Linked DNA regions of Homo sapiens. The protein of the gene in region 1 purifies or fractionates together with the protein of each later gene. This does not show direct contact. Each region holds a gene or a part of one and is shown in the gene's direction. Other genes may lie near its edges.

The links. Proteins that work in one complex are often made in the same cells at the same time.
Region 2: the proteins of AFTPH (region 1) and DDAH1 purify together in Homo sapiens (affinity purification with mass spectrometry; one large-scale study listed by BioGRID and IntAct). This does not show direct contact.

The regions. Positions count from the first base shown.
Region 1 is NC_000002.12:64,551,086-64,556,076, forward strand, and holds part of AFTPH (aftiphilin), read left to right. Parts: intron 1-19; exon of another isoform or gene 20-179; intron 180-357; 5' UTR 358-389; coding exon 390-2,324; intron 2,325-4,991. UniProt on the Homo sapiens protein: Component of clathrin-coated vesicles.
Region 2 is NC_000001.11:85,454,296-85,459,286, reverse strand, and holds part of DDAH1 (N(G),N(G)-dimethylarginine dimethylaminohydrolase 1), read left to right. Parts: intron 1-4,991. UniProt on the Homo sapiens protein: Hydrolyzes N(G),N(G)-dimethyl-L-arginine (ADMA) and N(G)-monomethyl-L-arginine (MMA) which act as inhibitors of NOS. Has therefore a role in the regulation of nitric oxide generation.

The DNA.
Region 1 (4,991 bases):
TAACAGAATAAGCACTTACCCCAGGAGAGAATTTTGTAGCTGTACTTTTGTAAGTGTATATTCAGAATTATCTGGAATCCCCACATTTCATTAATGTACTACCAGTGCTCTTGGTAACATGTAGTCTAAGAGAACTTTTTTTTTTTCCAGTGCACTATAGCTGTGTAAAGTAATTGCACCTAAGAGAAAAATAGATTAAAAGATACAAAACATCATGCAGGACATGGTCAAGGAAAAAAGGAGACAAAATAGAGCATTGTAAATTTGCATTGTTTTAAAGTAGCTTTGAGAGAATTTTGAAAGATCTTGTTCTATGTAATCTGTCCCCTCCAAAAATTCTTTTTTTCTTTTTTACAGGTGTAAATTAATTATTTGAAAGCAACTGAACAATGGAGCCAGACATCATTCGAATGTACTCTTCATCCCCACCACCATTAGACAATGGAGCAGAGGATGATGATGATGATGAATTTGGGGAATTTGGTGGGTTTTCAGAAGTTAGCCCTTCTGGTGTAGGGTTTGTTGATTTCGATACACCAGATTATACTCGTCCCAAGGAAGAGTTTGTACCTTCAAACCATTTTATGCCAATTCATGAATTCTCAGAAAATGTAGATAGCCTTACAAGCTTTAAGTCCATTAAAAATGGTAATGATAAGGACATCACTGCTGAACTTTCTGCTCCTGTGAAAGGACAGTCTGATGTTTTACTTTCTACCACCAGCAAAGAAATAATTTCATCTGAAATGTTAGCTACTTCCATTGATGGCATGGAAAGACCAGGAAATTTAAATAAAGTAGTGGAGCAGAGACAGAATGTTGGAACACTTGAAAGTTTCTCTCCAGGAGATTTTAGAACTAATATGAATGTTGTTCATCAAAACAAGCAGTTAGAGAGCTGCAATGGTGAAAAGCCTCCTTGTCTGGAGATTCTAACAAATGGGTTTGCAGTGTTGGAAACTGTAAATCCTCAGGGAACAGATGATCTGGACAATGTAGCTGATTCAAAGGGACGGAAGCCTCTTAGCACTCATAGCACTGAGTATAATTTAGACTCTGTACCTAGTCCTGCTGAGGAATTTGCAGATTTTGCCACATTTTCCAAAAAGGAAAGGATACAATTAGAAGAAATAGAATGTGCAGTTTTAAATGATAGAGAAGCACTAACCATTCGGGAAAACAATAAAATTAATAGAGTCAATGAACTGAATTCTGTAAAAGAAGTGGCTTTGGGTAGAAGCTTGGATAACAAAGGAGACACTGATGGAGAGGATCAGGTTTGTGTTTCAGAAATAAGCATAGTGACTAACAGAGGTTTCAGTGTTGAAAAACAAGGCCTTCCAACACTGCAACAGGATGAATTTTTACAGTCAGGTGTTCAGTCAAAGGCTTGGAGTTTGGTAGACTCAGCTGATAATTCAGAAGCCATTAGGAGAGAACAATGTAAAACTGAAGAAAAACTTGACTTACTTACTTCTAAATGTGCTCACCTATGCATGGATTCTGTTAAAACTTCTGATGATGAAGTTGGTTCTCCCAAAGAAGAAAGTAGAAAGTTTACTAATTTCCAAAGCCCAAACATTGACCCCACAGAAGAAAATGATTTGGATGATTCTTTAAGTGTAAAAAATGGTGATAGTAGTAATGACTTTGTGACTTGCAATGATATCAATGAAGATGATTTTGGTGATTTTGGTGACTTTGGCTCTGCCAGTGGCTCAACTCCACCTTTTGTTACTGGTACTCAAGATTCAATGAGTGATGCCACTTTTGAAGAGTCTTCAGAGCACTTTCCACATTTTAGTGAACCAGGTGATGACTTTGGAGAATTTGGGGATATAAATGCTGTTTCTTGCCAAGAGGAGACAATATTAACAAAGTCAGACCTAAAACAGACTTCTGATAATTTATCAGAAGAATGTCAATTGGCAAGAAAATCTAGTGGAACAGGCACTGAACCTGTTGCAAAACTTAAAAATGGGCAAGAAGGTGAGATTGGACATTTTGATTCTGTGCCAAATATTCAGGATGACTGCAATGGTTTTCAAGACTCTGATGATTTTGCAGACTTCAGTTCAGCTGGTCCTAGCCAAGTTGTAGATTGGAATGCTTTTGAGGATGAACAAAAAGATAGTTGTTCTTGGGCTGCTTTTGGAGACCAGCAGGCTACTGAATCTCATCATCGAAAGGAAGCCTGGCAGTCACATAGGACAGATGAAAATATTGATACTCCAGGAACCCCCAAAACGCACAGTGTACCTTCAGCAACTTCCAAAGGAGCAGTTGCTAGTGGCCATTTACAGGAATCAGCCACTTCAGTTCAGGTATTTACTAATTTTCTCTATTTTGTATGATGTATTAATTGTTGTGGAGGCTTCTAATTTCAGCTTTTCAAAAAATATTTTTTCAACTGAGTACTTGTTAAAGGAGTCTCGTTATGATGTATAATGCCTGTCTGATTTGTGGGTTGGTTACATTTTTCACAACCCTTTGGGAAACTACAAATAGTCCTATAGTAAAGCGCAGTAAGATTTTTCTTTATCTCAATGAGTTTCGTTAATATTTACAGATACTCATCAACTTGGATTTTTTGGTGACTATAAATACCATATATGTTAAAAAAAAAAAAAAAAACCCACACTTATTACCTAATTGACGGTTCCAGTCAATCCTTCAGTATTACCCTTTACAGTGATTTTAAAAGAAGGTTAAACTGAGATTTGGATCTTTTTTTTTTTAAGCTTAAGAATAGAATGTTAATTTTTTCCATCAAAGACCTAGGAAATTCAAGTACGGTTTTGATTCCAGGAGAGAACAAGCAGAATTTGAAACCTCATTCTGTGCCAAAGGCTATAGTGAATTGAAGAACAGAAAAACAACTAGAAAAAAGCAAGTTTTTCTTTTTCCTCATAATTTAGCAGCTGCTAAAAGACTTGGGGTGAGGGTATGAGATGAATTAAGGTTTAGTCCTAAAATAAGAAATAACTATAGGTTCACTTATTGTAGTTGTATTTATTTGCCTATACTTTCTTACAAATGTACTTGTTAGCTCTTCCTAGAGAGTAGGTGTGTCAGGGAGAATATTTTTACCCCTTACCTCCTATACATTATCCTTTTTTGATTCAGACTCTTTCAGAAAAGATTCATTAAGATTCACTTTGACCTAAAGTAGCCCCTAGAGGTGTAGCTTGATATCTAGGTTGTTCCCCAGTCCAGAGTTCTACTCTGTGCTAAACTTTACCTTTTTTCAACTCCAGGGGTGTGGAAGAGGGCACTCCCTTGAACCTCACTGCCTTATACTGACAATTGATATATGTAACTAACACCTGATCCACAAGCTTATTTTAAATATACTGTTAATAAACTCAGAATCTACAAACTTTATTTCTCCAGTTATCTTCTGCTAAGAAAACCATTTTCAACTGGAAATCTTTCCAAAGTCTTTGTAATTGAAATACTTATATTTCATTGCCTTGATAACTTTGAGACAGTAAGATATTAGAGAAATTATGGTATTACCAGTTGGTGTGCATAGCTAATCGCTTTTTAGTTGGCTTTTGTGTCAAAGTAGTTTAATTTGCTAATTCAGTTATTACATGGTTTAGCTAATGTGTATTATTCCTATTGAGCAGTTCATTATTTAGGCAGAACCTTGCCATTTTAAACAAGAAGTGAACTAATTATGATGCTAAATGAGGACTGTTGCTTTTGACCTAACCCTTTCCCTATTTAGTTTCATCTCACTAGAGGATAGGGTGACACTGGTATTGGGTGATCTTTAATTTGTAGCCTTAGAACTTTTAACATCATCAGATAATGAATTTTTTAAAGTGTGACCACTCAAGTAGGAATTTCTTGCATCATACAAGTTGATTGAAGTTATTTATGTATAATTTGATAACTGGATATAGGAGATAATAAAGCGTATGGGCTTCATGGAATCTGACAGATCTGAGTTTGAATTTTGACCCAGCCTCTTAAAAAGCCTTATGATTTTTGGATAGGTTACTTCTGAATTCAGCTGTATATACAAAGAAGGTAATACCTACTTCAAAGAACTTTTGTGAATATAAAAGGAAATTTTAAAATGAGTGAAATAATCTGCTAGAAAATAAGAATTTTATAGTATGATTCTTTTTTTTATAAAAATAAAACAAACTATAGATGGGGCAAGATGCATTAAGAGTTTCTGAGACCAGGTGCAGTGGCTCATGCCTGTAATCACAGCACTTTGGGAGGCTGAAGTGGGTGGATCACTTGAGGTCAGGAGTTCTAGCCCTGCCTGGCCAACATGGTGAGACCCTGTCTCTACTAAAAATACAAAAATTAGCTGGGCGTGGTGACGTGCATCTGTAATCCCAGCTACTCAGGAGGCTGAGACAGGAGAATAACTTGAACCCAGCAGGTGGAGGTTGCAGTGAGCCGAGATCACACCACTGCATTTCAGGCTAGGCTACAGAGAGAGACTGTCACACACACACACACACACACACACACACACACACACACACACAAGACTTTCTTGGATTTGTTTGGCTAAGGCCTCATGCTTCTATTTTTGCTAATGGGTTATGGAAAATGAACAGAATTTGGATGTTGGGAAAGAGAAACTGCTGGAGGAGGCCAGAAGAAGTTTGGGAAGAAAGTTGAAGTAGTGAAATGGATAAACCCTGCTGAGTAAGTGACTGAGTCAGAAGTGGAGAAAGATTGAACAAAGACTCTCGTTCTTACCCTGCTGTTGTGAAAGAGAATTGCGGCTGGCACTTTATTTCTTGGGCTTCAGATTCTGCTAGAAGAGTGCATTAATTTAGCCCTTTTGGAGAGGATTAGATTTATTAGTATTTTTCTTAAAATGTTTTCCCTAGTTGCTCCGGACAGTGTTTGGAACAGCACGAATTCCTCACTTTTTTTTTTTTTTTGGAGACAGAATCTTGCTCTGTCACCCAGGCTGGAGTGCAGTGGCACGATCTCAGCTCACTGCAGCCTCCGCC
Region 2 (4,991 bases), on another chromosome or scaffold:
ACTAAGAAGGCAGGGCTAGATCCCTTGTAATTCAGATATGCTGGAAAATTGCCTTTGCATGTATTTGAATTCTTATTAAGCTCAGATTTCTTCAAAATTAGTTTTTATTATAATAATGGTAGGTATCCATCCATTAATATAAACCACAAAAACAGAAAAATCTACTTACAACTTTTCAACAAACAGATTTACCTTCCACTGCCTTTGTGTCATAAGTAAATTGTTTGTGGCATCTTATGATTCTCAATATAAATTTGGAGGTGCATGTTTTAAAAATGAGTGCTAGTTATTAATTTTATGGGCTTTTGCTACTAAAATCTGTAACCATTTCAGAAAGCCTCATTTTTTGACTGGAGATCTGGATATGTGTAGTGTTCCTTCCTGCTTATCAAGGGAGTACCATAATTAAAGAGAAAATGACTAAAACCTTAATAAGAGAGAAAAAAGTTTCATTTATATCTTATACAGAACATAGTGCAGTATTTATTTCAGGTTGTCCATAAATATTTACTTACATAACTGAATCCTCTGAACTTCCATCAAAATATTCCCCTGACCTTTGAAGTTAGCTTCCATCACTTCCCCTAAACTGATATTAGATATTAAATCTGTCAGACATCTCAGGCTCATTTCATAAGCAGGGGCTTTTCATCTGAATGGACAAGCAGGCATAATCTCAAGCAACAAATCCCATTTTAAAATGTGTGTGTGGTGTCTGTAGTCCCAGCTACTCAGGAGGCTGAGGCAGGAGAATCACTTGAACCCAGGAGGTGGAGGTTGCAGTGAGATGAGATAGCACCACTGCACTCCAGCCTAGCAACAGAGCAAGACTCTGTCTAAAAAAAAAAAAAAAAAAAAAAAAGTGTGTGTGTAATGTCATCCTAGTTCACTTTGTCATTATCAAGTAATTTAATAATGTACATCATTTTCCTGAAGCTGATGCTGCTGAAGGAGCAGTAGCATCACATAGAAAGGAATAAATCACCAGACTTTAGACTTTTGTTGCTAAATGTTTAGATTATCCAAGCAACTATGACAAGAGGAATCAGCATGAAAAAGTACAAAGAAAAGTACAAACTAATACAGGGTTGGTTTAATTTTGTCCAACAAATCAGTGTGGACAAGAACCCGACTTAGTTTAGGTTAGCAAATTAAAAGGACTATATCATTTAAGCTGCTTTTGCAGCTGGATGGGCTTATAGGGGTAAGTTATCATTCCAGTGAAGATACATACATCAGCATTTTCCTCTGTTTGAATATGTGTAAGTAAACCTTTGCCTTTATTAAAAGACGTTTTGGGCTGGGTGTGGTGGCTCACGCCTGTAATCCCAGCACTTTGGGAGGCCAAGGTGGGCGGATCATGAGGTCAGGAGTTCAAAACCAGCCTGGCCAACATGGTGAAACCCCCATCTCTACTAAAAATACAAAAATTAGCTGGGCGTGCTGGCAGGCGCCTGTAGTCCCAGCTACTCGGGAGGCTGAGGCAGGACACTCACTCGAAACGAGAAGGCAGAGGTTGCAGTGAGCCAAGATCACGCCACAGCACTCCGGCCTGGGCAACAAGAGCGAAACTCCGTCTTCATCCTTTTGCCTTGATTCTGTCGTCATTATTTTGCTTAAGAAATATTAAAGTTTTCCAGTTTTTGTGTGGCATTAATTATGAGTGCCATGATTGCGTGAAAAATGACTGCTTTTGATAGTAAAGGGATAATAGTTGTGTTACTCATATCTGTTAGTACATTCAATAACTGTCTATTATGTCCAGGCTGAATGTTTGGTGCTGGGGAGATACAGATGAATTAGACACTTCCACTGCCCCTGAGGATGTCACAGTCCAGAGAGGGAGGCAGATCAGTGACAGACACTTGCAGAACACGGGGGCAGATTTTATGACAGACCTCAGCCCAGTGCCATGGAAGCTCAAGAAGATGTGTCTCACCCACACCAAGGCTTCCCAGAAGGAGCGATTATTGAGTGAGAATTAACCAGGGGAAGGCAGAGAAGAGCAACCTTCCAGATACAGAGAACAGGATGAGATAAGATGGGGGTAATAGTCCAGTGAAGATTAATTTTATTAATGTTGAGAAGATGTAGAATTGAGAAAAACTCACCCGTGCCCTCTCAGATCTTTTGAAATTTCAGATCCAATTCCAAGTTCACCAAAAGAAACAGGTACAGAACTGTATTACTTTGTTTTGGGTCTAGAGGGATTTGGCCACTTTGCACACTTCATTTCTAAGTGTACTTCCCTCTTACTCTTATCCACATGCTCCATAATGGTCTGGAACCCCTTCTAGGATTCCTGACTGGCACAGTTTGGGAACAATGTAGCCCACTCTGGAGTTGACTAAAGTCTACTTTAAGTCTGAAACTTAAACATTTCCTGAGTTTGCCATTTAGATTCTGGTAAGGCACTTTTTTGGTGGTGGAGGGTGGGGGGGTCCTGTAAGTTATCAGTATATTCTTTGCTGGGGGTTTTCCCCCTTGACCCATAATTTGTTACATGAGGGTGTATCAGGAAAACCTGTCATCTTGTAGTATGTAGTTATATACAGATGCTCCTCAACTTATAATGGAATTACATCCGGATAAACGTATCTTAAGTTGGCAATATCATAAATTGAAAATACACTTAATACTTGTAACCTACCGCACGTTGTAGCTCACGCTACACTACCTTAAACATGCTCAGAACATTTACATTAGCCTATAGTTAGACAAAATCATCTAACACAAAGCCTACTTTAAAATAAAGTATTGAATATCTCATGTAATTTATTGAATACTGTACTGAAAGTGAAAAACAGAATGGTTGTATGAGTACTCAAAGTATGGTTTCTACTGAATTCATATCACTTTTGCACCATTGTAAAGTCAAAAAATTGAAAGTTGAACCATCATAAATTAGGGACCATCTGTACATTACCCATGTCAATGACAAATAAGACAAAACTAATTTCTATTTGCTGTTGAAATTATTTTTATTCACAAATCTCTCCATCTTGACATTAGTCACCATTGAATCTCAAGTGCAGCGTAAACTGAGAATGCATCTATAATTATGGGTTGAATTTTGCATGAGCTACAGGAGGCAGCCAGGTGGGGATACCCACTGTCCTGGGGGCAGGAGACACTGGTTTTGATTTTTGCAGTGATATTAAGATCAAATAGCTGAGGGATTTTTTTTTTTTCTTTTTGGAACCCGGGTTGTAGGGGAGAGAAAGTGTAGGGTGGGAAAGAGATAAGAAGATGGGAGAAAGTGGATGGGGAGCTGATGATAACTTACATTTGTGAAATGGAATTGGAGTTTGATAAATAAAAAATACTGATTTTATTCAACCAAAGACATTATACTTTTTCTGCTTAATTAACTAATCATATGAACTCATGCCTTGTTAATGATAATCCATTATGAGATGCAGTTGAATTTGCTAAATCTATTTCAAAAGCTCTGCTTACTCAACCATTTATAGCACATTTGACAAGTAATTTTTTCTATAGAAGACTTTAAATAAAAACCATTGAAATAGTGTAAGATCCTAGACCCACATACTGTCTGCCATCACACATCACTTTCCTCAGTGTCTGTCAGTTGATGTTTTTGTGTGGTGAATGTGAACCAGTGGCCTGAAGAAATGGAGAGTAAATGGTGATGAGGTATTGCTGTAAGTTGTGTTTTCTGTTATAACTAAGTCTTGACTTACCCATGGTAATTCTTTCTTACAAACCTTCCATATATGTGTGCTGGTTTCTATTCCTGATGCTGAACTGTTAGTTTTCTAATATTTAACTTTTGGCTTCCAAAACTACATGAAGTTATTTTTCTAAAGAAAGACAAAAAAAAAGAAAAAGATACCTACTTAAAAGTAGCCTTCCTATAATTAGCTGTGTACACATGTTAGCCAAATAAGGTATAGATGTAGTCATTTTTAGCCTGAAATGATTGAAAAAGGTGAAATTAATGAATTAATCTTGGTGCAGTTTCAAAATAGTAATGGAAGAAAAACATAGCCATTTTATTCTTTTAATTATTTTTTTCAGTCATAAGGGAACCATCATTTCAGGAAGAAAGATTATTATTACTACAGTTTGGCTTTAGGTCATATTTTAGGCCATTTATGATGTAATCATATTTTCCAGCTCAAGAGTTTTGTGTGAAGAGATTTAGATCTAGTACTTTATTTTGAAATACCCAAACCATTTTTTAAATCTTGTTTTTGGAATTTTCTAACTTTCTGCATGCCATCCTAGTTCTCTGTCAGGGACCCTGGTTTTCCAGCTCCCTTTTCTCTGAAAAATACACAGTTGGGATGTTGAAGGGCCCTAGTCGAAAGGTTATTGATTTCTTCACTTTCGTCTTTTGTTACTCTCAAACTAAACATCATTAAGGCTTCGGCCTCCCTAATCTCTGAGTCTTCCCAAGTCACCCCAAATGTAGAAACAGTCCAATTATGACTAGAGCACAGCTTCAAGACAAGGTTTTTGTACCATTTTTTCCCCAATTGCTGCTCTCTACCCACTAGTGGGTCATGAAATCAATTTAGTGGGTCATGACCAGATCTTTCATTTTTATTGTAATAGAATCAGTAGAAAATGTCAGAGTGTACTGCAACATAGCGTCATAAGGGTAAGTATTGTTTCATAAAACTTGTTTCATTTTTACACACTATGTTTGTGTATACTGATTAGGTAAATAAATTTCTTACACTAGGTCATGGTAAAAAATAAATGTGAAAAATCGACCGCATCCCCTTTCAACTGGATTGCACCATTCAGCCTCTTTATAGAAATTCTGCAGGGCCATTCCTGTTGGCCAGTTGGGTCCTGGGAATCATGGCCAAAATCTCAGCATTACTTTCTATCCAGTCATGTTTTATTTCCTCTCACTTGTGTTGACTCCTTACGGTGATGGTTTCCTGACTGTTTGGACCCCTGTCCATTCAGCAAACTAGTGATGAGTCCATAGTTCTATGTGGCCTGGTAGGTGTGAT